Linked DNA regions of Homo sapiens. The protein of the gene in region 2 purifies or fractionates together with the protein of the main gene of each other region. This does not show direct contact. Each region holds a gene or a part of one and is shown on either strand. Other genes may lie near its edges.

Region 1 (8,258 bases), on a different chromosome or scaffold from region 2:
ACTGCAGACCCAATGCAAAGATGAACTGGAAAACTTGCCAACTATACAGAAGCTCAACTCAATGAAAGAAACTGGAGAATTGCCTGAGTTACAAGTGAGTCTGTGAACAAATAAGGGTCAGACCAACTAACAAGTGGCCAGGATGATGGCATAATACGTGATACAAAGAGAATAATTTGTCATCTGAGCGGCTTTAAGAAAAACTGAGGTCATTATTAATCTTTTAAAAATGGCCTCTATTATAATGGCACAGTGAAAGTCAAACATGAAATGAGCACATCTATAATTTTATTATACTATTTATTGGGGGAAATTATGCTGTCAAAAACCAATCAACGTCTGATTCCATTTTTGTTTATGTAAATAATTAATGCACAGGTGCAATTATAAAATACTTATTTTTATAATATTAAAGTTTTACTTTAGAAATAAAGCTTCCAGATTTCCTCCCACATACACACCCACACAATATTTACTATGAAATACTGGATCCCATTATAGGGAATTCATTTTTAGTATTCTTTCCCTGAAACTATTAATTATCCTCAGAACACACTCTCCTATAATTTAGTAAAATAAATGTTTCCAAAGTCTCAATTAGAAATTCAATGTCTCTTAACTGATTTTTACCTTTATACTTACTTACTTTTATGCTATTTACCATAATCTATAGAAACAGAAATGTGTTAGTGATGTAACTGCAACATGACCTCATTCTGGTCTTTCCAGGTAGGCCTGATACTAAATGCCCAACCTGCTTTGTTGAGAACTTCTGCCAGGCACCTGTGCATCAGCCTCTCAACGTAAACCAATCCGAAAGGAAGAGAGACGCAAGTATCTCAGGGGGGCAGGAGGGAAGAGCTCTGCAAAGGGCAAGTGTAAAAGGGGCACTTAGGTTGCAATGGCTCGATTCTCACAAGGGCCTTTCTAATTTGTGTTGCCCTTGGCCCTAGATGACTCTCAGGACGGAAGGAGCTTTAAATAGAGGTGGCTATTGGTGACCCTTGTCCACACACTTCTATTGAAATTTGAATAGCTCTCAGGGCACTAAGGGAAAAGGAGGAAGATGTCTTTAAGCTGGAGAACAGGGAAATATGCTGAACCTTTCAACAAAGTCAGGTTCATGAACACCAGGAGCCTTTTAGGACTGTATATTAACATTATTAATACAGGCAATAGGGCCTAAGAAACTCTTTGGCTGAAAATTATGTTAGCTTTTAGGTTGCAAGGACTGTATATTAACATTATTAATACAGGCAATAGGGCCTAAGAAATTCTTTGGCTGGAAATTATGTTAGCTTTTAGGTTGCAATACAGCTTTAGAGTGACATTCTCATAATGTATCCCCCTCAACCCAATCTCTCCCTGCAGATGCTGCAAAAATTACCTGGAGCACAACATAACTGGTATTAGTACAGGGCAGGCAGAGGGAATCTACCTCCTGTCAATCAATAGCTGAGATCTGCAAATGGATGTAAAATTTCCAGGAAAAATTTCAGAGGAAAACATTATGGCTTTAGTTTTAGGAAAAAAAGAACTGAATTACAGAGAAAATGGAAACATTTATTTTTATTTATTTATTTTTTTATTTTTTGAGGAGGAGGAGAAGGAAGAAAGGATGGGATAAAAAGCTGAGCAAGAGGAGAAAACAGCAAAAAAATTTACTATTTACATCTTAAGTGCTCTTATAAAAGTAATAGGTTATTTTCAGAATATAAAAGTTGAAAATGTATTATGAGCAGCTTGATGTACTCATGAAATTATCATATTTGAAACATTCAGAAATGTCAAGGTTCAAGGAAAAACAAAAAATTTCAGAAGGGAAATAAAATCTCTTCCTATTGTTAATTCCTTCCTGCCCCTCAACAGCACACAGTTAGTTTCGTAGGCTTCAGTCATGCCAGGCCTTTGGCAGTTCTAACATTTCTGCCAGGTACAGAGGTGGAACAGAACAAATACTTTCAGTCCTGCTCATGTGCCCTTGTCTCTCAGTTGACAGTGATACTGAACCCAACAATATGGCAAGCACAGACCAGAACTAGGGAAAATACTGAGTACAATGAAATGTGCTTTTGGTGCCAACTTCATCCAATCGATTTTAAATGAAAACACAGCCCAGAAGACGTGTTTGGATTTGCCTGTAGGACACATCCTAGAAGTTCCAAGGCCTGTCATTATCTTGGTTGCCCAATCGACACTACATGGAGCTATGCCAACTAGGGCAAAAGTAAACTCCTGTGAAATAGTTTTTAAAAAGCCAAGCTGCCTTACGTGCCATCTAGTTGATGGGAACAAATGAGTAAGCAAGGCTACTTCCAGCTAACAAAAGTCAAGTTATGAAATTAGTTCTCTGCAACATGTTGAAATTTTAAATTAATTGGAAGCCATGATATCTAACATTACTAAAAATACTATCAGCCACACTTTGCTGATCTCTATTTTCCTAACACAAGAGACAATGTCCTAAACCAGCTCAAATAATTTATTTGATTTACAGTAAAGTATGGATATACACTAATATAGTGTATGTCATTTGATTTATATTAGAATTCTTTTACATATTAAATAACACATTACCCAAGCTGTAAAATCACATTTTAGGTCAAATGTAACTCAATAGATTTTAAAGGCTTTTGTAAAGTAACTTCTATTAATTGAAATTCAAAGTGATTCTCCTATCACTCTTTAAACAACATAAAGTTTGTTTTACTCACCTCTCTAGCCACATTGCTTGTTTTCACTTCCTGAATAACTGTACCAAAGATGATATAATCAACTACTTCCTTAGGGACACTGGTCCGATGCAACAAACCCCTGGAAGTAGAAATCCAAAGCAAAGAAACATTTCACACATCAAGGCAGTGCCAGAGATCATCACACAAAACACTGCGCTCCTTGAAAAAGGTTAGCCTTGAATTTAAAAGGACAGAGACTGTATCTTTTCTTTAATTTGACAAGCATTTGGCACCTTCTCAAAGAAGAAATGAATGAAAGAGTGATTTTAAAAGTCAACATTTGATGCTGAATTGGTAATGAGAAGTTAGAGAATAAAAAATAATTTGGAATAGAATAAAATAGATAAGAAACCTATAAATTAATGTTAATTAATGTTAGTAGAAACCAAAGTTTGCAGTGAAAAAGAGAGACAAATATTCAATCAAAGAGATAAAGCAAAGTCTCCCTTAAGACTATTAAAAAAAATTAAAAAAAAAGAAGTCCTGGGTATGTTAAATTTTAGTTTGAAATATCAGTATCAACAAATGATTGAAATAATACATATATTCTAGTTGTGCCCATGAATAGAAACTAGACACAATAACACTCCAGTAGGAATGAGCACTCCCTGAACCCAGACTTGGTTTCCTTTTTTTTTTTTTGAGATAAGAATCTTGCCCTTTCACCCAGGCTGGATGGAGTGTACTGGCACAATCTCGGCTCACTGCAACCTCCACCTCCTGGGTTTAAGTGGTTCTCTCACCTCAGCCTCCTGAGTAGCTGGGGCTACAAGCGCCTGCCATGATGCCTGGCTTATTTTTGTATTTTTAGTAGAAACAGGGTTCACCATGTTAGCCAGGCTGGTCTCGGACTCCTGACTGCAAGTGATCCACCAGCCTTGGCCTCCCAAAGTGCTGGGATTATAGGTGTAAGCCACTATACCCGGCCCCAGATTTGGTTTCTAAATGCCATTCCCCATTAAAAGGACAAAAGGTTTTTTAAGAAATGACTGATACCAGGTCCAGAAGAAAGTACAAAGTGAATTTCCATCTTTTTTGTGCCAAAAGTAAGGAAGCACTCAAAGACAAATGGGACCATATCAGCCGGGCACAGTGGTTTAAGCCTGTAATCCTAGCACTTTGGGAGGCCGAGGCAGGCGGATCACTTGAGGACAGGAGTTCGAGACCAGCCTGGCTAACACAGCAAAACCCCGTCTCTACTAAAAATACAAAAAAAATTAGCCAAGACTGGTGGCATGTGCCTGTAATTCCAGCTACTCGGAAGGCTGAGGCAGGAGAATTGCTTGAACCTGGGAGGCGGAGGCTGCAGTGAGCCGAGATCGTGCCACTGCACTCCAATTTGCGCAACAAGAGCGAAACTCTGTGTCAAAAAAAAAAAAAAAAGACAAATGGGACCATATCAAAAACAGGAACACGGGGTATATACATTTGTCAAAACTCATCAAACTATACACTTAAAATCTGTGCACTTTATTGCATGCAAATTATATATCAACAACCAGCATTATACTAAAAAACAAAAGGCACACAGGAGCCAACTTGAAGGAGTGCCAGATAAAATGTGGAATAAGCTGAGCTTCAAAATGAGTAATGACTAAACTTGGCTACAATGAAATAAATAAATAAAAATCTGTAAAATCTGTAGTTTTTTATCAATTAAAAAAACTAAAAAGAGGGTTAGAAACATTGGCTTACGCCTATAGTCCCAGTTACCTGGGAGGCTTCGAGGTTGCAGTGAGCTATGATCAAGCAACTGCACTCCAGCCTTGGACAGAGTGAGACTCCATACAGAAAAAAATAAATTAAAAATTTAAAAAAAATTTTTTTTTTGAGACAAAGTCTTGCTCGATTGCCCTGCCTGGAGTCTAGTAGTGGAATCATAGCTCACTGCAACCTTCAACTCCTGAGCTGAATTCTCTTGGTTGGCTAATTTTTAAAATTTTTTTTTGTAGAGATGGAGTCTTACTATGTTGCTTAGGCTGGTCTCAAACTCCTGGGCTCAAAAGATCCTCCTACCTTGATCCTCCTGCCTTGGTTTCCTAAAGTGCTGGGATTATAGGTGTAAGACACCATGCCTAGCTAGTAGATGAGATTTTTAAAGGAAAATATGCATACAGAGAAATGCAAAGCTCTAAGGAATGAAACTTGCAAAACACCTTTCAAAAAGAGAAAGAGGGAGAGATCCAGTTGTGTGTGTGTGTGGTTTTTTATTTTTATTTTTTGAGACGGAGTTTTGCTCTTGTTGCCCAGGCTGGAGTGCAATGGCGTGATCTCGGCTCACTGCAACCTCTGCCTCCCAGGTTCAAGGGATTCTCCTGCCTCAGCCTTCCAAGTAGCTGGCATTACAGGCATGTGCTACTACGCCCAGCTAATTTTGTATTTTTAGTAGAGATGGGGTTTCTCCATGTTGGTCAGGCTGGTCTTGAACTCCCGACCTCAGGTGATCTGCCCACCTCAGCCTCCCAAAGTGCTGGGATTACAGGAGTGAGCCACCGTGCTTGGCCCAGTTTTTTTTTTTTAAGCTAGAGAAGAATCGGCCGGGCGCAGTGGCTCACACCTGTAAGCCCAGCACTTTGGGAGGCCGAGGAGGGCGGATCACGAGGTCAGGAGATCGACACCATCCTGGCTAACACAGTGAAACCCCGTCTCTACTAAAAATACAAAAAAAAAAAAGAAAAAAAAAATTAGCCGGGCATGGTGGCAGGCGCCTGTAGTCCCAGGTACTCGGGAGGCTGAGGCAGGAGAATGGCGTGAACCCGGCAGGCAGAGCTTGCAGTGAGCCGAAATCACGCCACTGCACTCCAGCCTGGGTGACAGAGCGAGACTCCGTCTCAAAAAAAAAAAAAAAAAAGCTACAGAAGAATCAGTCAGGATACAGAAGAAAAAGAAAAATCATAAAGGCATATTACTAAGAAGTCAACAGAAGAGAGGTGATTATAGCTTACAGTGTCAAGTGCTATAAAGTACAGAGACAGAGGACTGAGAAAGGATCAGTACATTGAGCAATCATAAAACCATTATTAAGAGAAGATTCTAAAGTATGGTTTCTGTAAAACAAAGGGAAAATGGAAATAATGATTATACAATTAGACAGAGGAAACTAATAATAAGGAAACAGAAACAACTGCTCTTTCACTCATGCTTGAGGTATTGCAGGAAGAAAAAAAAAACAAACATAGAGTTAGAATGGACAGAAAGGTCAACTGAAGGGTTTCTCCAAACTAAGAAAGAACTGTGGCTGGTTGAAGACACAAAGGCAAAGTGTCAGTGGAAAATGAAGAGATAATGCCTTACATGTTATGAAACAGCAACACATTTAATGATTCTCAACCAAATTATTCATCCAGCCTAATCTTATTTAACTACATCTAATTTTACATTTTTACTTGGTTTGCACATGAATCTTCAGGTGTCTTTTAGGCTTCTTTCTAGGTAAATATCTACATAATCTGTTCAGCTACCCTTATACAAGTTCCTAAGGCAATCATCAAATATATGTATTGTGTTTAGGCTGATCAATCGAGTCCTGTGGCTAGCTAAGGTAGCATTAAAGTATACTGTCAGGCTAAGACACTGTTAGGCCTGCAAAATAAAGATTGACAATATTCATAAGCTGCTTAAATTTGTATAGTACAGATGGCTAAAATAAGAACAAATTGCTATTTTATGTGTAAAAACTGGAGAAAGTGCCTTTAATGAAATAAGAACGGAAATGAAACTGCATTTACTTACGTAAGCGCTGCTCTAGCCAAATCATGTGGCATCAGGTCTTTATATCTGGGGAACGAAAACCAGTAATTTAAACCAAAACCCTAGAGCTTCAATGAAAAATTTTCATTCTATTTGAAATACCCAGAGATCATCAAACACATGCTGCTACAAACACACTTAACTTTACTATCCAAGGCAGTCCATCATTTCAAATGAAGAAATAGTGTGACTTCGCTATTTGTCATCCTTAAAAGTCTAGCAAGCCTTAACTCCTCCTGAGCTTGCTAAGAATCGAACAAAAATGTTGTCCAACACCTTAATGTTCAGTATAACATATGCTAAATTTTCTTTAAAGTGAAGCCCCACCTTTGAGGTCTCTTTTCCTTTAAACATTTTATTTTAAAAGTATATTATTTATTTATTTTGTAATGCCTACAGGGCTACAGGTGATGTATTAGGACTTTTGAAGAAACTTTTTGCTTTTAAGTAACTTGAGATTTACCAAAGAATTGGAAAGAGGCCAAGCATGGTGGCTCACACCTAGAATCCCAACATTTTGGGAGGCTGAGGTGATATGACTACTTGAGGCCAGGAGTTCAAGACCAGCCTGGGTAACAGAGCAAGCAAGACCTTGTCTCTTACAAAAAATATTAAAAATTAGCCAGGCGTGGTGGCATGGATCTGTAGTCCTAGCTACTTGGGAGGCTGAGGTGAGAAGACTGCTTAAGGCCATGAATTTGAGGCTGCTAGGATCACACCACTGCACTCCAGTCTGGGCAGCAGAGCAAGACCCTGTGTAAATACATAAATAAGAATTGGAAAAAGAGAGCAGAGTTCCTCTTTCCCCCTGCTGTTTTTTTTTTTTTTTTAAGACGGAGGTTCGCTCTTGTTGCCCAGGCTGAAGTGCAATGGCGCAATCTCAGCTCACTGCAACCTCCACCTCCAGGGTTCAAGCAATTCTCCTGCCTCAGCTTCCCGAATAGCTGGGATTACGGGCACCCACCACCACGCCCAGCTGATTTTTTTGTATTTTTAGTAGAGATGGGATTTCACCATGTTGGCCACGCTGGTCCTGAACTCCTGACCTCAGGTGATTTGCCCGCCTTGGCCTCCCAAAGTGCTGGGATTACAGACGTGAGTCACCGCGCCCAGCCTTCCCCTGCTTTTTCTAATACTGACATCTTACATAACCATGATATACTTATTAAAACTAAGAAATGAACATTGGCACAATACTATTCACTAAGCTACTACCTATCTGAGTCTCACCAGTTGTTCCACTAATGTCCTTTTTCTGTTCCAAGATTCAATCCAAGATACCATGTTGCATTTAGTTGTCATGCCTCCTCAGTCTCCTCCAATTTGTGACAGTTTCTCAGTCTTCCTTGTCTTTCATGACCTTGACACTTTTGAAGACTGGGGTTATGGATTTAGGGGAAGAATATCACAGAGGTAAACTGTATTTCTCTTAGCTTCGTATCAGGGGGCACATGATATCAACATGACTTACTACCAGTGATGTTAAAGTGATGATTTGGGTCAAGTGATGTCTGCCAGTTTACTCCACTATAAAGTTACTATTTTTTCCTTTCTTATCTCAATTTGTTAGAAGTGAGTCACTAAGTCTAGCCCACATTCTGAGGGGAGAATTAAGTTCCACCTTCCAGTGGCAGGAATAACACAGACTTTGCGGACGTATGTCGAAATCATCATAGTAATTGATAAATATTTTGGGGGAGATTCTCTGAGACTATGCAAATATTCTGTTTCTTCTTAGCATTTCACCTAATTTTAGCATTCATTTGTAGATCT
Region 2 (8,058 bases):
AGTCTAGTATAAGTCTGTGCAAAACTTTTTAAGGTATGGTGAAGTAATTTAAGGCAGAATTTGATTTCCATTTAGAAATGGAAAAAGATTTCAAGACGATTTAAAAAAGAGAAACATTTCAATGACACAGAAAGGTAATGCTAAAGCTAAATTGTATCTTTTATGAGTCAAAGCAAGTTATAAGGCATCTTGTTAGGGGACCATAAATGTTTAGACATGAAGAATCTATTTTATTCACTATTCTTTTCATTTCAGCACACCAAAGAAAATTGAGCTGGCAAAAGATGAATCTTTCACAAGCAGTGATGATAATGAAAATGTAGATTTAGATAAAAGACTTCAATATTATAGATATCCGTGGTCAACTGTGCATCACCCTGCAAGGAGACCAATATCCATCTCCAGAGACTGGCATGGATATAAGAAGAAGAACCATACTATTAGTGTAGGAAAAGACATTAATTGTGACGTGATGATTCACAGAGACGACAAGAAAGAAGTGAGGGCCCCTTCTCCATACTGGATAATGGTGAAGCAAGACAATGAAAGCTCTTCCTCCTCTACCTCCTCTACCTCAGATGCATTTTGGCTGGAAGATTGTGCCCAAGTTGAAGAGGGTAAAGCCCAACTGGTATCAAAGGTTGGTTAGCAAATCTGTGGTCATATGAGCATTTATCTTGCAGACACCCAAGTTTTGTGCCTCACCAGGCACAAGTTTGCTGTACTTATCAAGGACTGTCTGTAGACTCACCAATTCTCTTCTCTTATGACTGCGTTATAAAGCCTTTAGAGATGTTCTTCAACAGGATTATCTAAAGACTTCCTTGGGTTCTTGCAGGCCTCACAAATCTTATTTTCAGAATAAGACCCTCCTTTTTGAGAAGAATTTCTTTCTTTTAGAAAATGCCGTAGAGAAATCCAATATCAGAATGTCTGAACATAGTAGAGAATGTCACTTTATGTAAACACTACATTTTTCTTTAAATATTTAGTTTCTCTCTTTTTTTTGGTAAACTTCAAGTACTATAATTAAAATAACTAAGAGACATAATTCTTTGGCTAGTTATTCACATTAGAATTCTTTTTTTTTCCCCTTTTTAGCCCTTCTTTTACTGTAAATGTTGAATTGAGAGTTAATTATTTGGAAGAGACAGGATAGTAACAGATAAGGGAGAGACAGGAGATGAGAGAAAAACAAAACTCTGTCAATGAAGATAAATCAGACATAAAAAAATGAATGAATGGGAATATAGGATATGATTGATAGGAAATGTATGTTTTTTGGAAATAATTTTATTGCAAAAAAGGCAAAACAGGGGTAAAAACCAGACCATTTAGCTGTTGACACCCAAAATGACAAATTTTGAACTTGCTTTCATCTTAAACGCCACCAATAGTAATCTGGCACTATTTACCCCGATAGCCACTTAGCCTTAATTTTAATAGTTTCTGATGCTTCTATACTCAATAATTATATTCCTGTCTCCTTTAAAGCATCTAAAACAAAGATATCAGCACATAATAAATACTTGTTGATTAACTCATTGAGAAAAACGTAAGAAAAACACTTAAACAGAATGTTTTATTGACTTTAGGTCAGCTGGGAATAATTACCTGCATTTATGCCTTATTTTACCTCACTGGAAAAAAGACAAATGATATATTAGAGACTTCTGACTTTCATGTGTTTGCTGCTCTGGGCTGAGAGAACGTTCAGCTCTCTCCTGTAATGTGTGCATCAGTATTACAACTCATCAACAAAAGGTGTATGTCCCAAATTTCCACTTGCTGCCATTGACTTCTGGCCAGAAACAAACTTCTTTGCCGCCTTTAAAGAAACAAACAAAAGACAAAATTAACAAAAATAAAAATATATATCATCAAGCAGGCGAACTTATTTTGTCATTTCAAGAATTTATGGATAGGACATTCTTTTTTTTTTTTTTTTTTTTGAGGTGGAGTCTCGCTCTGTCACCCAGTGTGGAGTGCAGTGCTGCGATCTTGGCTCACTGCAGCCTCCGCCTCCCAGGTTCAAGCAATTCTCTGCCTCACCCTCCCAAGGAGCTGGGATTACAGGCATGTATCACTATGCCCAGCTAATTTTTGTATTTTTAGTAGAGACGGGATTTCGCCATGTTGGCCAGGCTGGTCTCAAACTCCTAGCCTCAAGTGATCCACTCACCTTAACCTCCCAAAGTGCTGGGATTACAGGCGTGAGCCACCAACCTGGCCTTCGATAGGACATTCTAAGCCAGCAATTACTATAATAGCTGTTGTGAAAATTAACTAGGAGATGGCTGGTGCTTTAATTTGGGACAGTGTGGGAGGAAAAGCTTAGCTGTTTCTCTGAAAGTCCCATTGTATGTGTAATGAACCAAGCAAGAGCAACACTGGTAAGAGGGTAGCTGTTCAAAGAGAGATAAGGAAAACAACACTGACACTGTCAAATAGAGTAGTGTGGCTTCAGGCAGGGATATACTTTCCTGTTTCGGTATTACAATGGCAAATAGTCTGGGTCAATAAAAATACATTGATTGTTAACTTAAAAGTAAAACTTGATACCCTAGAGGATTCTTTATGCCACTACTTCCAAGTTCAAAGGCTGGTTAAGTGTAGTATCATGAGTCAGGTGTAGGTGGAGCAGCAGCCCCCATATTCTGTCAGGCCAGCTTATCTTATTACTATGAAGGAGAGGTGGTGGTGGAAGCAGTCGGGTTGGGACGCACATAATGATAGGATATAAGATGAAGACAGCCATTTAAAAGAGTACCAAATGGGCTGGGCGCGTTGATTCACACCTGTAATCCCAGCACTTTGGAAGGCTGAGGCGGGTGGATCACGAGGTCAGGAGATCGAGACCATCCTGGCTAACATGGTAAAACCCCGTCTCTACTAAAAATACAAAAAATTAGCCGGCCGTGGTGGTGGGCACCTGTAGTCCCAGTTACTAGGAAGGCTGAGGCAGGAAAATGGCGTGAACCCGGGAGGCGGAGGTTGTACTGAGCCGAGATCGCGCCACTGCACTCCAGCCTGGGCAACAGAGCAAGACTCCGTCTCAAAAAAAAAAAAAAGAAGAGTATGAAATGACGATTGGGGCGAAGTGAAATCAAGTCAGGGTTACTATCTTAAAATAGCCTTGTCTCTTTTTTATTTGAGACAGGGTCTCACTCTGTTGCCCAGCCTGGAGTACAGTGGCATGATCTCGGCTCGCTGCAACCTCTGCCTCCCAGGCTCAAGCCACCTTCCCACCTCAGCCCCATGAGCTCCTGAGTAGCTGGGACTACAGGCGCATGCCACCAAGCCTAGCTAATTTTTGTACTTTTTTGTAGAGATGGGGTTTTGCTACATTGCCCAGTCTGGTATTGAACTCCTGGGCTCAAGCAATCTGCCCACCTCAGCCTTCCAAAGTGCTGGGATTACAGGAATGAGCCACTGCACCCAGCTTAGTTTTTTATTTTTTCTTATCCCCACTGTCCCTATACAAGGTAGACCTGTTGGTGAGAAGATGGCCGAGACATCTACAGTAGAAAGCAAGTTGGCAAGTTTAATGTAGAAAATGGGGAAAACCCACTTACTTTGGATTAATTCTGTAGGTCATGTGCTTGTTAGGCACAGCAGGGAACACAAAGAAGTACATGACATAGTCCTTGCCCTCAAAACAGCTCAATATTGTAGGGAACAATAATATATGTGAAAAAAAAATTAGCAAGAACAAGAGAATGTCCTAGGCTGAGAAGAGTAAAGAAAATCTTAAGATGCTAGATGGTGAAATATTGCTAGGACTGAAGAGGAAAAATAGCAAACTTCACTATTTAGGTTGGATCATATGAAACTGCTAATATTTGACTCTTCTTTACTTCTAGTCATCTAACATAAGCCCATTTTATAAACTACCATTAGTTTAACCTAACGTTTGATACGTTAGGTGTATTAAATGCACTTTTGACTGCCATCTCAGTGGATGGCAGCCCTCTTACTGACATCACAGTTTAACCTAATGGTAGTTTATTTGAAGGAGGAAGATACATATACTCGAGCTGACAGGGAAGCTTGTTGCGGATCTTATGGGAATGAGCCCTCCTGCCTCCACATTAAGTAGATGAGCACCAAACATAAGAATAATACACTGCCCAAGGACGCTTATGCATCCTTCTGAAATTGGATCATTAAGGTTAAGTTCTCTGTTGTTAAATCGTTAAGTTTTCATTTACTTACATTTATGATATCAGCATTAGCCACTGAATCAATCTGCTGAAGGACTGTGGATGGTGGCATGTAAGAACCAGCAACTAGAGCCTGGGACCCGACTTCTTCCAGGAAACACTCAGAAGACTCCACTGACATTAGGTATCCAGCTTTCAGCTTGTTCCTGTCCAATAAAAGGCAGAAGTCAGTTTTAGAGAGCAAGGCAATTATTTTTTTTTTCTGAGTGGTGGCGGGGGGCTGTGAACATCAAAGCTTTATTTAATGGATAGAGTAACAGCGTGTCTCCCTCTTCCTGAATTCCCCAAGAAGAATGCCACTCCCTTCTCTGGAACATACTAAAACAGTAAGTCTGAAGGGAAGAAGTCTCTTCAGGGTTGCCAAAGTGTCCAATTGAGGGCCCACTTTGGCCTCCATTTGTGGGTCCATATGCTGCTACAGATTTGAGTGAGACAGCTGGAGAGCTCCCTAATGCTTCCCAAGGCCTCTGGATCCGGTTGTGCAATCTGGATCCTCTGCATGTCACTGGCCAGTCGCAGCATGCTCTTTCTCCTGCCCACTGGCACAGTGAGGAAGATCTCTCTGCTGTCAGTGAGAAGGCTGTCATCCACTGAGATGGCAGTCAAAAGTGCATTTAATACACCTAACGTATCGAACATCATAGCTTGGCCCAGGTTATCTCATATGTGCTCAGAACACTTACAATAGCCTGCAGCTGGGCAAAAGTCTTCTAACATAAGCCCATTTTGTAAGGAAGCATTGATTATCTCATGTACTGCATATCACTAGCCTAGGAAAAGATCGAAATTCAAGGTATAGTCATGTACTACATAATGATGTTTTTGGTCAATGATGGACCACATATATGATGGTGGTCCCGTTAAGATTATTAGGGAGCTGAAAGATTCCTATTACTTACTGACAACATAATGTTGTAGTGCAATTTTAAAAAAATAAATTTAGCGTAGCCTATGTTTACAGTGTTTAGTATCTACAGCAGTGCACAGTAATGTCCCAGCCCTTCCCATTTACTCACCACTCACTCACTGACTCACTCGAAAGCAGGAGCTATGCCATAAAAATGGCATACCATTTTTTTATCTTTTGTGCTGTATTTTTACTGTACCTTTCCTATGTTTAGATGCACAAATACTTACCTTTGTGTTATAACTGCCTACAGTATTCAGTACTATAGTACATGCTATACAGGTTTGTAGCCTAAGAGCAATAGACTATACCATAGAGCCCATGTGTGTAGTAGGCTATACCATCTAGATTTGTCTGAACACTGAGGTTCACACAGTGATGAAACCACCTAACACCACATTTCTCAGAATGTATCCCCATCGTTATGTGACCCATGACTGGAAGCTGAAATTGCGATGGTTTTCCTCCATAGTCAAGTTGAAAAATTATAATTGATCCATGGCAAGTTGGGGACAGTGTATATTGTAAACCTACCTTTTGGCTGCTACAGTGTGAAGACCAGGGATCTTGAAGAGCCTTCTGTCAAACCAGGGTGTCAGGCCTGTACTTGGTGTCACCACAGACAACTCCACCTGGCCCACAGCTGGGGTCACAGTGTTATAAAGGTCACAGTCTTGACCTTTTCCTTTTGCCTTTTCCTTGTATGAAGTGGGTTCTCTTCTTGGATGGAGGATACCGTTCAATGCTTGTAGTTTGAAGATTCTCATGTTTATTTTCTTCTTATGCTATCGTTTCACTTGTATTACCTGTGAGTTTTGGCAGGTTTCGGGGGTGTCTGAAGAGCTTCTGCTGTCTGTTTATTTCTGTGATATCCACTTCAGCTGTTGCTGCCTCTTTTAGGGCCTGTTTGTTTTCACCAAGGGTGAAGTAGTCAAGCCAGTTCCTCTTACACAGTGAAACAGGGCAATTTTAAGGTATGTGCCCCGAAACTCAACATATTTTTGGTAAACAGGCAAACTAACAACTTACAGTGCTAATGGCCTCCATTCTATTTCTTCAGTTCACCAAGTACGTGAACCGTTTACGTTACTATTTGGAAAGCTGTCAGTACGAAATTATACTGAAAACTCCACAGATTGCTTTTTGATTTGGGACTAGAACTTAGATCTAGGTAAAACTATTTTAATGTAAGGTTTTGATTAGTGAAGCAACTCCTGCCTCTTGCTGAGATTTGTCTGTGAGCATAGGGTATGATGGAAAAGGCAGGTGGGGAAGGGCAGTACAGGTCTTGTAAGCAACGGCAGCTTAAATATGGGCACAAAAGCATCCACTTGAAATAAAACAAAATCCAATTCACAATTCTCCCAGAAACTTATTACTTATAGACATGGTGTTTGATAAGACAGTCGAGTTATTTGAACCTCAAACGTTTATCATCCTTTAACACTCTACAGAAAGACTTCCATTTAAACATAATTACAATTTAATGCTGCAGTTTTACCACGTTGTCAGCTTAATTAAAAAATGATTTTACCTGCAATAAACTACCAAGAGGTTATTAGTGTGTCCTTTCGGCAATGACACCTCACTTTCTCTCTTTCACTACAGGAAGAACTTACAAGAAAAAGTATCAACTCCATCAAAATGGCAGAAAACATACTTTGACATTAATATTCAAAATTCTACTTTCTGCTTATTACCATACCTTGTAAGAACTGTGTTACACTTATTAAGAAAATACGTTTTCTTAAATAAATTAGATTTGAAAAACTTAGGTTTTTCTTAAGTAAATCCAGTGTTTCAATGTATTCTCATCATGTTTTGTTTCTGGTACAATCAAGCAGCCCTGCATCCTATCGATTCTTGGTTCTATGTATACAATATTTAATAAATTGTGTTGTACTTATACAAGAGATGCAACTTTGTAGTGTGCTCAGCATAACAAAACTAACAATACTAATGGGAACAGAAATGACCAAAAGGTTGTTCCATCCTGGGTTGTAATTCTGCTTCCCCTGTGGGCAATACTAAATGATCATAACGACCACTGGAGTTGCAAGATTCACATTTTGAATTGTTCTAAGTAGATGGAGTCAAACTTAAATGTCTTAAGCGGCTGTATGAAAATGCAGGTTGATTTCCAACTTTGTCCCAAGTCTGTCTCTTTTAGAGAAACCCTCGAACTACTAATGAATTAGGAGTGTTGATAGCACTTTCAATCTGGACAGTGGGGATTTATAAATTGCCAAATAGCAGACAAGTATTTTAGTCTTTCTTATAAAACAAAACAAAATCAGATCTTTTTTGGGTATAAATTAGTTATGAAGAAAGAAACTATTGTAGAATAGGTACTCTTATATACTGGTGGTATGATTATAAACTGGTACAATCTCTTTAGATTTGTGACTTAGAAATACATTTTTTTTTTTTAAGAGACAGGGTCTTGCTCTGTTGCCCAGGCTAGTGTGCAATGGCGTGATCTTAGTTCACTGCAGCCTCAAACTCGTGGGCTCAAGCAATCCCCCCTCTTCAGCCTCCTGAGTAGCTGAGGCTACAGGCACACACTACCACACCTGGCTAGTTTTAAATATCTTTTTGTAAAGACAGTGTCTTGCCACATTACCCAGGCTGGTTGAACTCCTGGCCTCAAGTGATCCTCCTGCCCCAGCCTCCCAAAGTCCTGGGATTACAGGTATGAGCAACTGCGCCTAGTCAAATGTATTATTTAAACATACACACATACACACACTCTAACATGGAGTCTTTCGTTATGTTTATAACTCTTAACTTAGTTGGGAATCTACACCAAGAAAGTAATACGAAACACAAAAATATTTTAAGCCCAAAGATATCTTTATAACTGCAGAAAATGCACAAGTGTATTTTGACACACCAATGAATATTGTTTAAATTTTTAGTAATTTGAAT
Region 3 (7,000 bases), on a different chromosome or scaffold from region 2:
GTAGTCCCAGCTACTCGGGAGGCTGAGGCAGGAGAATTGCTTGAACCCGGGAGGCGGAGGTTGCAGTGAGCTGAGATCGTGCCACTGCATTTCAGCCTGGCGACACAGTGAGACTCCATCTCAAAAACAAAAAAAAAAAGATGATGCAGTCATGGGTGTGGGTTAGGTAAGTGTGAAGGAGTCAGTTTTTGCTGGTGGCAGGTAATGGACTTTTACACGCTTAATATCAGAATTAGAGTCACTTCATAATTTTCGTTGAGAATTAGCCAATATTGCTTGCTTTTTAAGTTTTTATGTATCTTAATATACTCCTTAAAAATCTCTCAAACAATAGTTTCTTGGAAGGGTGTCATTCCTGACTCCCTCCTCCACTGCCTTCGTCAGCTGTTATAACAGCGCTGTGGAATCATGGTAGATAGTGGTAATCCACGGTCCATTTGATTCTCCCTCCACTGTGTTTCTTAGTCTCCCGAGGATCTCAGGACGTGCAATGATTCAGAGCTTTATCTCCTCATTTGCAAAACTTTTATATTTAATAAAGGAAGCTATCCCTAAAGAGAGTTCAATTAGCTCATCACTGTTCTTACTCAAATTGTACCTAACAATTAAAGTAGTAACATAGACGTCTTCAGAATTAAATGAAAGCTAAACATGAGAGTGCTTTAAAACACATGAAATTAGGGCAAATGCGTAGCATTATCACAAAAGATGCTACCTCTTCATACCTCTGACTTGGAGTACTTAAGGAAACCAAAACATTCTGTGTTTGTCCAAATATGGTATTCAATTCAAATTTATACCATATGGTATTCTCTGACTAGAAACTTGTGTCAGTTGAAGTGTCTGCCTAAAACAATAATATCCAAGAGTGACTTGTTATAACCAATAAATTTTGTGTTCAGGGAGAAAAGTCATTACTACACCAAAAAAGGAAGGTTGACCAAAAACTGGTATTACTTTTCAAGTGTGATTATGAAAAGCTGTTGTAGTAGAACAGTCATGGCAGGTAGTTTGTGCTCTGAAATAACAGAGCTTGTCAGGATTTGCCAGCTTTTATCTTTTCCTTTAGTAGATTCATTCTTAAAACCAAACCTAATATTTTTCGTGCTGTAGTGGGAGAATCACCTGAGCCCAGGAAGTTGAGACTGCAGGAAGCCATGATCACACCACTGCACTATAGCCTGGGTGAGGGGAGTGAGACCCTGTCTTCAAACCGCAAAAAACAAAGATCCACTCTTTTTGTTATACAGTTCCACGGATTTGGACAAATGCATAATGACATGTATCCACCATTACAATATCATGCCAAAGAGCTTCACTGCCCTAAAAATCCCTCCTCTACTCTCCCCAAAACCCTGACAACCACTTCTCTCAACTATTGCTAGATCCTCGGCTTTTCTGGCATGTCACATAGCCAGAATCATACAGTATTTGCTTTTTTTCAGATGGCCTTCTCTCCCTTAGCAGTATGCACTTAAGGTTTCTCCATGCCTTTTTATAACTTAATAGCTCCTTTGTGGTTTTGGTGAATAATAGTCCATTGTATGGATGTATCAGAGTTAGATTATCCATTCATGTATTGAAGGACATCTGGGTTGCTTCCAACTTTTGGCATCATGAATGAAGCTGCTTTACATGCTCTTGTGTAGGTTTTATGTGGACATAACATTTCATCTCAGTTGGGTAAGTTAAGACTAGGTTTAGGTTTGTAAAAAGCTACCAGAACATCTTCCCAAGTGGCTGTGTACTATTTTACATTCTGCCAGCCATCAATGAGAGTTCCTTTTGCTCCACATCCTCATCATCATTTGCTGGTCAGTTTCTTGGGTTTTATCCATTCTTGCAGGTGTGTAGTGATATCTTACTGTTTTAACTTGCAGTTCTCTAATGACATGATACTGAGCATCATCTTATGTGCTTTTTGCCATCTGGTTGGTTTTTGTTTTTGTTTTTTGAGACAGAGTCTTGCTCTGTCATCCAGGTGGAATGCAATGGCACGATCTCTGCTCACCACAACCTCCACCTCCTGGGTTCAAGCGATTCTTCTGCCTCAGCCTCCTGAGTAGCTGGGATTACAGGTGCCCACCAGCACGCCTGGCTAATTTTTTGTATTTTTAGTAGAGACGGGGTTTCACCATGTTGGTCAGGCTGGTCTCGGAACTCCTGACCTCGTGATCCGCCTGCCTCGGCCTCCCAAAGTGCTGGGATTATAGGCGTGAGCCACCGCACCTGGCCCTGCCATCTGTTGATCTTCTTTGGTGAAGTTTCCAGATCTTTTGCCCATTTTTTTTATTTGGGTTGTTTGTTCTCTTATTGCATTTTAAGAGTTGTTTGTTTTGGATACAAGTCCTTTATCAGAGATGAGTTTTAGAAATATTTTCTCCCAGCCTGTGGATTGACTTTTCATTCTCTTCACAGTATTTTTCACAGGACAGAAGTTCTAAATTTCAATAAAGCCCAACTCATTTTTTTCTGTCATGGATCATGCTTTTGGTGTTGTGTTTAAAAACTCATTGCCAAACCCAAGGCACCTGGATTGTCTCCTGTGGTATCTTGTAGAAGTTTTATGGTTTGGCATTTTATATTTAGGCCTGTGATTCATTTTAAGTTAATTTTTATTAAATTTGTAAAGTCATTGTACAGATTAATATTTTTGCATATTAGTGTCCAGTTGTTCCAGTGCCATTTGTTTGTTGAAAAGAATATCCTTTTTTCCTTGAATTGCTTTTGCTTTTTTATTACTGTAACTTTAGAGGAGGTCTTAACGTCAGGTAGTGTCAGTCCTGACAATATTGTTTGACTTTTCTAGGTCTTTGGCCTTCCTATATAACCTTGAAAATCAGTTTATTGATATCCACAAAATAGATATCAACTAAAATCAAACTTGCTGAGATTCTAATGGATTTTTAAAATTGTAAAACACATGGAACATGAAGTTTATCATTTTAACCATACAATTGTGTGCGGGCATTTTTAACTTCATACTCCAGTAGTTCAGGGCTGCTGCAGAGGAATGCAACTAGCTTTTTATATACACTAACCTTATATCCTGCAACCTTGTCATAAATGCTTATTGGTTCTAGGAGGGGCTATTTTTATTCTTTGGGATTTTCTACATAGATAATCATGTCATCTATGAACAAAAACAGTTTTATTCCTTCCCTTCAAATTTCTATGCCTCTTATTTTCTTGTCTTACTGCATTAGCTAAGACTTCCAGTATGATACTGAAGAAGAGTGATGAGTGGGGATTTCCTTGTCTTGTTCGCAATCTTATGGGGAAAGCTCCTAGCCTCTCCCATTAAATCAGAGATTTTGTGTGTTGTTTTTTTTTTTTTTAGCAGGTTGAGGAAGTTCTCTATTCCTAGTTTGCTGAGAGACTTTTTCATGACTGGGTGTTAGATTTTGTTGGATGCTTTTTCTGCACCTATTGATTGTATGATTTTTTCTTTAACCTGTTGACGTAATAGATTATATTATTTGATTTTTTAATATTGAACCAGCTTTGCATACCTGGAGTAAATCCCACGTAGTGATGGTGTATAATTATTTTTAATACATTGTTGGATTTGATTTGCTAATACACTGTTGAGGATTTTTGCCTCTAACCTATGCTCATGAGAGATATTAGTCACTGTCCACCAAGGTCATTCAATTAGAGAAACCTTAGATCATTCTTACTGCTTTCCTTTCTACTACGAATGTACATGTGAAGAAGTTAAATGCTTGCAAATCTAGTCTCCTATTGCTTTGCCAGCATCTTCATCCAGGTTCTTGAGGTCTCTCCTGAGGCTGTGGCAGCCTACATCCCCATGTCTTCTGTGTTCATCAAAACTCCAACCTCATTTTACGCTTGTCACTGCCATGTGAGATACTTTGCTGAAATACTAAACTGATTTGTGGGCTTATAAACATTCATTTCCCTATTAACCTACAAATAAGATTTAAACCAATTTGCTTTTTTTGATATTTAAAAATATTAATTATTTAAAGTAACAAACCCAACTCATGTGTCCAGTTTCCCCTTCTCCATTTCTCACTCTTTCCTGATCATGAATGCTCTTAAAATGACATTCTGTTCCCGAGAATCCCCTCCTCACATCTCTACTTTGTGCACACATTTCATCATGCTCAGTTCTCCTGTGTAGCTTTGCCTGCAAACACAGGCACTTTGTATGGATTTGAAGGCAGAAAGATCATCTAATATTTTTTAGCATGTCTTCCCCCATTAGGCCAGGAATTCTCTCATATTCATCTTTCACCAACATTTCATTTAAGCCTAATCATTTTGACTTCTGCACATTAGCATTTCAATTTTAAAGACTTGAAAAAAAATACTAAATGTTATGTAAATGTAATTTTTTATGAACCTTGTTTACAAGGTAACAATATGTCAGAGACCATGTCGTGTTTACCAGTGCCTGGAATTTAGAGCATCTTGGTAAATGTTTATTGAGCTAAATTGAAAAAGTTAAGAATCAGTTTATATAAACTACTTTTACACGTGTAGTCATGTTCGACTATATCATTGACTCTGTTACTGGAAGAGGTTGCTGTGAACTAAGGAAATTTTTAGAGTGGCTGGCCTTGATTCGAAGTATAGTTGGGCAGCTTAACAAGGGGAGGGGCTTTTCTGTCATGGAAACAAGATAAGCAAAGATATGGAGGTGGGACTAGAGCATGTGTGAGTCAATAGAGCATGTTGACTTCTGGGAAGGTGGTGGTACAGACAGGCCAAATAAAAGGAGGCCTTCAATACAGGGATTTGCGCCACTACTAAGGGATTTAAATATATGTCTATTCATATACATTCTGAGTCCTGTATTTGATAGATTGTTTCTTTATGGGGTATTCTTTAAATAAATATATATTAACTGAAAGTTTTTCTTGTATAATGGAACTATTTTTCAAAAAACTGAAACATTTTTAAAACTTTTATCCTCAGGATTCAAGTTCGAAATATGGCAACTTTGAAAGATAGTAAGTATGTTGTTTGTCTCAATATGTGAATTGAGAAAAACTAAATTTTGACAAATACAAATACTTTCAAAAATATACTGCTTTAGCCCATTGTGTATTTGATCAAAACTGACCAAATGGATTTCCATTGTATGTTTGGGACATTGGACTTGTTCTGAAAAGACCAGTAAGAAAGGACACCTGAGACAGCTATGTTCTGTTGTTTGTAGAATGATCATGATATAACTAGAAAAAATTATACCAGTGTTGGTGTAGGTGGGTGTATGTGTGGGAAGGGGTAAATCATGTTATATATAAATAATGTTATGGAATATGTGGTTAAGGCAACTTTCAATACCATTTAATGTTTTAAATGTATATTATTGTCTTATGTTGCCATTTGCTTGTCCTAAGTAGTAGCTAGTTTTGCCTTCCTTTTATTAGTACTATTTCTATTTTTTTTTTTTGGAGATGGAGCCTCATTCTATCACCCAGGCTGGAGTGCAGTGGCGCCATCTCGGCTCACTGCAAGCTCCGCCTCCCGGGTTCACGCCGTTCTCCTGCCTCAGCCTCCCGAGTAGCTGGGACTACAGGCGCCCGCCACCACGCTCGGCTAATTTTTTGTATTTTTAGTGGAGACGGGGTTTCACCGTGTTAGCCAAGATGGTCTTGATCTCCTGACCTCGTGATCCGCCCACCTCAGCCTCCCAAAGTGCTGGGATTACAGGCGTGAGCCACCGTGCCCGGCTATTAGTACTAGTTCTAATATTAAGACTGGTTTAGCATCGTGCTGTTTATTGTTTATCTAAGCGCTCATTATTCTGCCTTGCACTTCAGAAAAATATGTCAATAAATTCACAAGGAAGTTATACTGTAATTCCTTTGTCTTAACACAGTACTTCTATTTTTCAGTCACCAGGAGACTAAAGTCCATCAAAAACATCCAGAAAATTACCAAGTCTATGAAAATGGTAGCGGCAGCAAAATATGCCCGAGCTGAGAGAGAGCTGAAACCAGCTCGAATATATGGATTGGGATCTTTAGGTAAGGGAAGAGTGTAATTCACAAATTAGGAAGAACTGTTTCACACAAGGAAGACTACTGATGACTTACATTTAGAGCTTACAGTGATGTCAAGCCTATCTGAGCACTTGCCATGTACTTATTTTTCATCTACATCCACTTGACACGTAATGATAACAACCCGTGTAGGTAGTACAGGTAGGGACTGTTAGAATCCCTGCTTTCCAGTGAGAAAAACTGAAGCACACAGAAGTTAAGTAACTTGCCTAAGATCACATATAAAAGGATGAAGAGCCTCTGTTTGGACCTATGTGGTTTGGTGTCGAGTCTGTGTATTTGTTAGCCATTATACGTGACCATGTTAACTTTTAAAATATTCTGAAATGTTCCCAGTTGTTAAGTATACCATCAGAAGAACTTGGAAACCGTGCGTTAGATGTAAGGGCTTAATTTCATCCTATGACCTTGTAGTGTGGCATTTTAGGACTGCAGCGGGGGCGGGTGAGGGGCAGTGCAGTGGAGAGCTGGCCTTGTGGTCATGGATATGACTCATGATGGTGTTTTGAGAATCCGAACGATGTTGAAGCAGGAAAAGCAGCTGAGAACCTCCATTTTCAAGATACTTAATCACCATTCTTATCTTTTCAAAAGCATGAAGACATTTTTCCTTCAGAAATTTATGTAATCCATCCTTAATTAGTCTTCTTAATGGAAAAGAGATGAGATATGACAGTTTAAAAAGAATTTATATTGTGTTTTTAGATGCTTTTATACTTGTTTGATTATGAATTCATCTTGGAAATAAAGTTGTAAAGAGCTGGAAATGGGAAAGAAGTTTCTATTTTAACTTGTAATTACATTCTTTCTCTTAACTTTTTTATGATCATGCTGTCTTATCCTGAGTTGAGGCTATCTAAAAGAATTTTTAACTTAAGGAAGATTTATGCATATTTGATAGTAAAGAAGATCATGCAGTGAACCCCCTATTTATCTACCAAATCCTCAGTATCTCAACTGAC
Region 4 (7,221 bases), on a different chromosome or scaffold from region 2:
TAGCACTCATTTCCTGGGACCCTCACCACTGGGGAGCTTATGCAGATAAAATCTACCCTCAAACAAGAACATCTCACCAGCAGCTGGCGGTGGACAGGCAGGCATCCAGAGACTGGAGCAGATGTTTCTCAGCTCTGGCCAGTGAGTGCCCCTTGATCCCTGTGGCCCAGCCTGGAGCTTCCAGGGACCCAAGAGACCTTCCTTCCCAGGTTCCTTCTTGCTCTCCCTGCTCTGTCCTCTCCCCATGGCTGCCTCCCCTTGTGCCATGGCTCAGGGGGAATGTCCTTCCTATTCCCAATGGCCACCTTCTCGCCCTGATGGACACGTCTCCACCTGTTTCTCTGTGGAGTGTGAGCATCAGGAAACCCTCTGTGCTCCCAGCGAGGCTGCCGGTGAGTGGAATCTGGCTTTGGGAAGCATCTTGAGTGCAGGACACCAACAGCATCAGAAATTTCTGAACAGCACCTGCCTTCTAGCGTGTAACGAGGTGCCACAGGGAGAGCCCCAGTGCTTGGCACACTGTAGGCATGTAGCAGCTTTTCGTGGAACTAAGGGACAAAGGTGCGACTTGCAAGGACACAGTGGCTTTTCTTCTTTTAGGAGAGCCCAGAGGTGCTCCTTAGGCAGGCCAATAATGGGAGCTGAGTGAGGGGGAGGAGGAAGAGGGTGGCTTTGCTTCCCTGGGGTGGGGGGTTCTATTCCCTAATGGCCATTGGAAATCAGCATTCATACTTGGCAAGAAATAGCTAACCTCTACCTTGGGGAGCATAGGCTTGGAGAGGATGTGCCTACTGCAACCACTGGCTTTCAAAAGACTGGGCTTTCTTTGCTGATGCTGGATCAAACGTACTGAGACATGGCCACAGAAGCTCTGCTGCTTTATGGACATGAAAGGTGGGTGACAAAGCCCTGAAGAGGGGACTAGGGTATCCTAAATTCTGAAATCTGTCCCCAGATGCACAAGCCTCCACGTGGAAAAGGGAGAAGGACTGCTTGCATGGTGTACGGCCTTGGGTGCAGTGACGGATGGCGCACACCTGCCCCAGTGCCCTCCATTGAGGTTTGGAGCAGTGACCTCACCTCTGCACAGACCCACCTGCAGGGTGGGGGGATAGGACGGGGCTATCTCAAGTGTGGGGGGCACCAGGGCAGGGCACCTTGGAAGTATTGCCAGGATAACTAACTGAAGACCAGTGGTTAGGGCAGGGCAGCCCTGCCCCTGTTCTCTGTCCTGTCTCTCAGGAACTGGCGTGAGATGGGGAGATCAGGTGCACAGTGAGGGGCGTAGCTGTGGATTGAACATAGCATGGTCAGGCTTCTGTCTTTTATTATTTATTTATTCATTTATTTATGATATATCATAGTTGTACATACTTTGGGGGTACATGTGATACTTTGATACCTGTATGAAACATGTAATGATCAAATCAAGGAAATTAAGATCTTCATCACCTCAAACATTTATCTTTTTTGTGTGTGGGCGGCAAGCCACCCAGGCACCGAGGCAAGAGACAGAGGACACGAGCTCTTCCAGTATAATAAAATATAAAACAAGAATAGTTATACCAGATATAGATCTTAGATATGATTATATATGACTATCATTAATCATTAGTTTGTAGCAATTACTTTTTATTCCAATATTATGATAATCCTCGCTCTATAATCATAGCCTAGGAAAAACCAGGCCATACAGAGATAGGAGCTGAGGGGACATAGTGAGGTGTGACCAGAAGACAAGAGTGCGAGCCTTCTGTTATGCCCACACAGGGCCACCAGAGGGCTCCTTGGTCTAGCGGTGACGCCAGCATCTGGGAAGACGCCCGTTACCAGGCGGATCATGGTCCAGCAGTAGCAAAAGGTGTCAAGGAACAACACCTGCTACTTAGCAGACCGGGAAAGGGAGGGTGGGGGTCTCCCTTTCCCCGGGGGAGTTTAGAGAAGACTCTGCTCCTCCACCTCTTGTGGAGGGCCTGACATCAGTCAGGCTCGCCCGCAGTTATCTGGAGGCCTGTCTCCCTGTGATGCTGTGCTTCAGTGGTCACGCTCCTAGTCCGCCTTCATGTTCCATCCTGTACACCTGGCTCTGCCTTCCAGATAGCAGTAGTCAATTAGTGAAAATACTAATAGTCCCTGATATGCAGAAATAATGGCGTAAGCTGTCTTTCTCTTTGTCTCCTCTCCCTCTCTGCCTCCGCTGCCAGGCAGGGAAGGGCCCCCTGTCCAGTGGACACGTGACCCACGTGACCTTACCTATCATTGGAGGTGACTGACATTCTTTACCCTGCCCCTTCTGCCTTGTATCCAATAAATAACAGTGCAGCCAGACATTCGGGGCCACTACCGGTCTCCGCGCATTGGTGGTAGTGGTCCCCCGGGCCCAGCTGCCTTTTCTCGTCTCTTTGTCTTGTGTCTTTATTTCTACACTCTCTCGTCGCCGCACACAGGGAGAGACCTACCGACCCTGTGGGGCTGGACCCTACAGCGCCCTGTGTCACCTCGGCAGCTTAAGCACGTGCAACTGGTTGCTCTGTAAGCTGCTCACATTTGGCAAGGCTGCGAGGCCACACCAGCAAAGCCAGGTGGCTGGAGATGCTGACCCAGCAGAGCATCGCGCTCCCCGCCCCGGGCCAGACCCTCCTACTAAGCCCAGCAGGCCAAACACGGACCCGCCCCCCTCAAGTGCCTAGGTGTCCCCGGGGCCTGAACACATCAAGTTACATTTTGATGGAGTTAGAATCCGGAAAATCAAGAGTGTGGAAGATCAGGAGCAATTAATGTAAACAGGAGGAGGATGAAGCTGGGAGGAGCAGGAGCTAGCAAGCAGGAGCTAGCAAGCAGGAGCGTGAGAGTGGCGCTGGGAGAAGGCCTGGATAGGGATAGAGTAGAGCACAGAACATGGGGGTCACCCTCAACCACCCCTAAACACTCTAAGCTCGAGCAGTCCCTCAACTCCTGGTCTGTAAAGTGGCTGAAGGAAGTGGGTGGAGCAAAACCCATATGGGCGAGTGTCCCAGCAGCTGCCTCAGTTTCCCTATCTGTAAAACGGGGCTGGGGACCTGCAGCTCTCACGGGACTGGTTACCCGCTCGCGGGTGCTCGCCCTGCATCCGAGACAGCACCTACAACTCCAAACCCACTCGGGGCGGGTCGAGGTGGGCCCTTCGGTCCCTTCGAAGCCAACATCCCGATTCCCCTTCCCGGGAAGGCACCCCCGGAAACGCCAAGGTCGCTCCAGCAGTCTCCTCGGGTCACCCGCTTCCCCGAAGCCGTCGTCCTCGCCTTCCGCTCTCGTCTTCACCGGCATACTCAGGTCCCCGCTGGGGACTGACACTGCGGGCTCGGTCGCCGCAAGGACTGGAAGGAAGGTGGAAGATGCGGGGCGAAAGCGGAGCGAGAAGAGTGGGACGCGGCGGAGCAGCAGAGCCGGGACTCAGAGCTCCCCCCTCGCCCCGCCCCTCTCCCCGCCCACTCTGCGAGTCCCGCCCCCTCTCGGGCGCCGGGCGGGGCCATCCCGGGGCTGTCCGCGGAGACGCCTATGCGGTGGAGGCTCCGGGCTTCAGCTAGGGCGGGGGAGCCCAGCAGAAGGACCGAGCAGCCTGGCACCCCACTTTGCCATCCTCTCCCTGGAAATCTCGGGGTCGGCGGGCCGGCCGCTTCGCGTGGGCGAAATCAGAGACACGTGGTTTCCAAGGCCCCTTCGGGTTCGGGAAAATTTTATGGTTCGGGTCACAGTAGGAAGCGGACAATGAGGCGGGAGGGCAGAGAGAACCGCAACACCTGGTGCCGGGTCGGGTCGTTTCCGGGGCTTTCAGTGGCCGGAAGTCGCGGCGCCTGTACTGACTCTAGGAAGGGCTGGAGTTGTTTTGAATGGGCGCCCGTAAGAGAGGTGGGCAAGTACGTGTTACAGACGGCCACGCCGCCCTTTAGGCGGTCAAGGTGGGGCGAGGAGACGTTCGCCCCCCTGCAGTCGGCCGGGTCACTACCCAAGAGCCTTTGGAGGCGGAAGCATGGAACGGTCTGCAAACGTTCCCGAGCGGGCCTCTGCGGCTCTGGCGGGCGTTTCGAACTTGGGCGCCGGGCACACGCCCAGTCCCGAGAGCGCTGAGGGTTCCCTTAGCGTCGCCCTCACCCCGGCCAACCCGCGGGGCGCCAGAGTCCTGGCCCTTTAAACGCCGCGCGTGCCTCGGCGTCTTCGTTTCGCGCGCCCGCCCGCGGCGCCGGCGGAGCGAACATGGACCCGGCTGCGCGGGTGGTGCGGGCGCTGTGGCCTGGTGGGTGCGCCTTGGCCTGGAGGCTGGGAGGCCGCCCCCAGCCGCTGCTACCCACGCAGAGCCGGGCTGGCTTCGCGGGGGCGGCGGGCGGCCCGAGCCCCGTGGCTGCAGCTCGTAAGGGGAGCCCGCGGCTGCTGGGAGCTGCGGCGCTGGCCCTGGGGGGAGCCCTGGGGCTGTACCACACGGCGCGGTGGCACCTGCGCGCCCAGGACCTCCACGCAGAGCGCTCAGCCGCGCAGGTAAGGCCTGGCCCGGCCGGGGATGGGGATGCTGATCAGCGCCGAACTCGGGACTCCTGGGAACCCGCAGGGTCAGGAGTTGCCTCTGCCTGCTTGTGACCTTGGGCGAGTGACTTGGTCTGAAGTCTCCGAACCCTCTGTATTCTTTTGTGTAAAATAGGGGCACTCCTGATGCCTACTACCTGGAATTGTTCGAGTTCTCATAAAATCGTTCTTCTACCGTGGTTTTTTTTTTTTTTTTTTTTTTGGTTTGTTTATTTATGTTTTCGAGACAGGGTCTCGCATTATCGCCCAGGCTGGAGTGCGATCGCGGCTCACTGCAGCCTCTGCCTCCCAGGTTGAAGGGATCCTCCTGCCTCAGCCTCCCGAGTAGCTGGGACTATAGGCTCACCCCACTGCGCCCTGCTAATTTTTGTATTTTTTGTAGAGATAGGGTTTCACCATGTCGCCCAGGCTGGTCTCGAACTCCTGGCCTCAAGTGATCCGCCCACCTTGGCCTCTGAAAGTGCTGGGATCACAGGCGTGAGCCACTGCGCCCAGCCTTTACCATGTTTTAAGGAGACTTTTTTTTTTTGAGACGGAGTTTTTTTTTGCTCTGTTGCCCAGGCTGGAGTGCAGTGGCGCGATCTCGGTTCACTGCAACCTCCGCCTCCTGGGTTCAAGCAATTCTCCTGCCTCAGCCTCCCCAGTAGCTGGGATTACAGGCGCCTGCCACCCAGCCCGGCTAATTTTTGTATTTTTACTAGAGACGGGGGTCTCACCATGTTGGCCAAGCTGGTCTCGAACTCCTGACCTCAAATGAGCCACCCGCCTCGGCCTCCCAAAGTGCTGGGATTACAGGTGTGAGCCACGGAGCCCAGCCTCTACCGTGTTTTAAGACTTTTTTGATTAAGAGATGGGAGATCACAGGAAAGGGAAAGCCTTTTTCACTTTCCAAACGTTCATCATCCTCTCTCCCCACTGCCCCCAAATCCTAAGGCTGTGTATTTATTTAGTAGTAGTGGTGGTACCTTTATGGAACTGATGACTTAGACTCCAGGCTGAAACAGGAAGAGGTAGAAAGGTGCCCCCCCCAAGTGGTGACCCCCTAAGTGGTGGCCCAGCTGCCTTGAGACACTTTATACCTACCCCACACCTTGCAACTCTTCATTACTTGACTTCCCACCACCCGCCCACAGATGCTTATTTGCTGGACCAGAGGGAACAGAGGTGGGTAAAAAGGGCATGGAGTACTCTGTGTCTCCCTTCCTGCCTCCACGGTCCAGCTTCCCCTCTGAACACAGGGGGATGGTCTACAGTTGTGGCTTCCCGGCATGAACGTGCAGCAGGCTCCCCTGGGGGCTTTCCTGCGGAGCTTGCCACACGCAGGCCTTGGCTCAGATACCACCCTCCCCCTCGGATATTTGAGATAGACTTTGGCTGGAGGATCACATGAACCCCGGAGTTCAAGGCTGCAGTGAGCTGTGATCAAGCTACTGCACTCCAGCTTGGATGGCAGAGTGAGACCCTGTCTCCAGAGAAAAAAACAAGAAAGAGATTGGAGGTAGACCCCACTGGTGAACATGAGCCTGGGTGGTAGCCCAGCTCTGCCCCCAGAGGTCCCTGGGGTTAGAGGAGTGAGAGTGAACAAGTCAAGTTGAAACAGTTGTTCCATGTCTGTGGGAGTGGGGTGTATACCCTGGGGCTGTCTGGTGTCCCCTTGGGACTGGAGTGAGAAAAGAGGGGTCTGTCCAGTATGGGACAGAGACTAGAAGATTCCTCCTACACAACCTCGCAGCAAAGGGTGGGACTCCTGCTTGGGGACCGTGCTGGCCAGGGGCTTAAACCTGGGCTGCTGTCCAGTGCCTCCCTTTCCCCTACCGCCCCCTTCCATCTCTAGTTCCTCTTCCCGATGTTCTAGCGTCATTTCAGAAGACTCCTCTGGAAAACACCCTTGGGGGCAGGGCCTGGGCCTGGGGGTGCCAGGTCTAGAAGCCTTTTCCGTCTGCTGCCCGCAGCTCTCCCTGTCCAGCCGCCTGCAGCTGACCCTGTACCAGTACAAGACGTGTCCCTTCTGCAGCAAGGTCCGAGCCTTCCTCGACTTCCATGCCCTGCCCTACCAGGTGGTGGAGGTGAACCCTGTGCGCAGGGCTGAGATCAAGTTCTCCTCCTACAGAAAGGTGCCCATCCTGGTGGCCCAGGAAGGAGAAAGCTCGGTGAGCCCCAGGGAACCCCCTGCATCCTTCCTCCTTTCCTGGGTTGTCCTGGAGCGCCCCCTAGCCTGGCCTGGCTCTGCAGCCTGGGAAGGAACTTGTGATCCTTGTGCCTGTAAGGACTATGGGGGAAGTAGCTGCATACGGTAGATGCTCAATAAATGTAGGCTCTCTCCTTCCGTACCAAAACCAAACACCTGCTGGGTCTCAGGGAGGCAGAACACCACAGCTTAACAACATAGATTCTGAAATCAGCGATCTGGGTTTGAGGTGTGATTCACCCACTCACTAGCTGTGTGACTTGGGGCAAGTCACTTAGCCTCTCTGCGCTTGCTTGCTTCATGAGTCAACAAGGGACCATATTCTGGCTTGCAGGGACGGCAGATATGAAATGCCTGGCACAGTGCTTGGGGTCTAGTATGTAGCTTCCAGAACCCACCCTGCCCCTCTACCTGGGAGGCCAAATGGGTGAGTGGGCTGGGGCTTAGACCCCACGGCTTTCCCACACCTTCCTCCC

The links.
Region 1: the proteins of UQCRC2 (region 2) and HADHB fractionate together in Homo sapiens (co-fractionation; 2 studies listed by BioGRID). This does not show direct contact.
Region 3: the proteins of UQCRC2 (region 2) and ATP5F1C fractionate together in Homo sapiens (co-fractionation; 2 studies listed by BioGRID). This does not show direct contact.
Region 4: the proteins of UQCRC2 (region 2) and PTGES2 purify together in Homo sapiens (affinity purification with mass spectrometry; 2 studies listed by BioGRID and IntAct, with this or other methods). This does not show direct contact.

What each region holds. Positions count from the first base shown.
Region 1 is NC_000002.12:26,268,207-26,276,464, reverse strand, and holds part of HADHB (trifunctional enzyme subunit beta, mitochondrial isoform 1 precursor), read right to left. Parts: intron 6,513-8,258; coding exon 6,468-6,512; intron 2,815-6,467; coding exon 2,715-2,814; intron 1-2,714. UniProt on the Homo sapiens protein: Mitochondrial trifunctional enzyme catalyzes the last three of the four reactions of the mitochondrial beta-oxidation pathway.
Region 2 is NC_000016.10:21,976,858-21,984,915, reverse strand, and holds the end of UQCRC2 (cytochrome b-c1 complex subunit 2, mitochondrial precursor), read right to left. Parts: intron 4,370-8,058; coding exon 4,216-4,369; intron 1,829-4,215; coding exon 1,745-1,828; 3' UTR 1,256-1,744; downstream 1-1,255. Other genes in the region: PDZD9 (PDZ domain-containing protein 9), read left to right, coding at 256-649. UniProt on the Homo sapiens protein: Component of the ubiquinol-cytochrome c oxidoreductase, a multisubunit transmembrane complex that is part of the mitochondrial electron transport chain which drives oxidative phosphorylation.
Region 3 is NC_000010.11:7,791,177-7,798,176, forward strand, and holds part of ATP5F1C (ATP synthase F(1) complex subunit gamma, mitochondrial isoform L (liver) precursor), read left to right. Parts: intron 1-4,944; coding exon 4,945-4,979; intron 4,980-5,870; coding exon 5,871-6,002; intron 6,003-7,000.
Region 4 is NC_000009.12:128,124,730-128,131,950, reverse strand, and holds the start of PTGES2 (prostaglandin E synthase 2), read left to right. Parts: upstream 1-4,221; 5' UTR 4,222-4,233; coding exon 4,234-4,512; intron 4,513-6,509; coding exon 6,510-6,707; intron 6,708-7,079; exon of another isoform or gene 7,080-7,172; intron 7,173-7,221. UniProt on the Homo sapiens protein: Isomerase that catalyzes the conversion of PGH2 into the more stable prostaglandin E2 (PGE2) (in vitro). The biological function and the GSH-dependent property of PTGES2 is still under debate.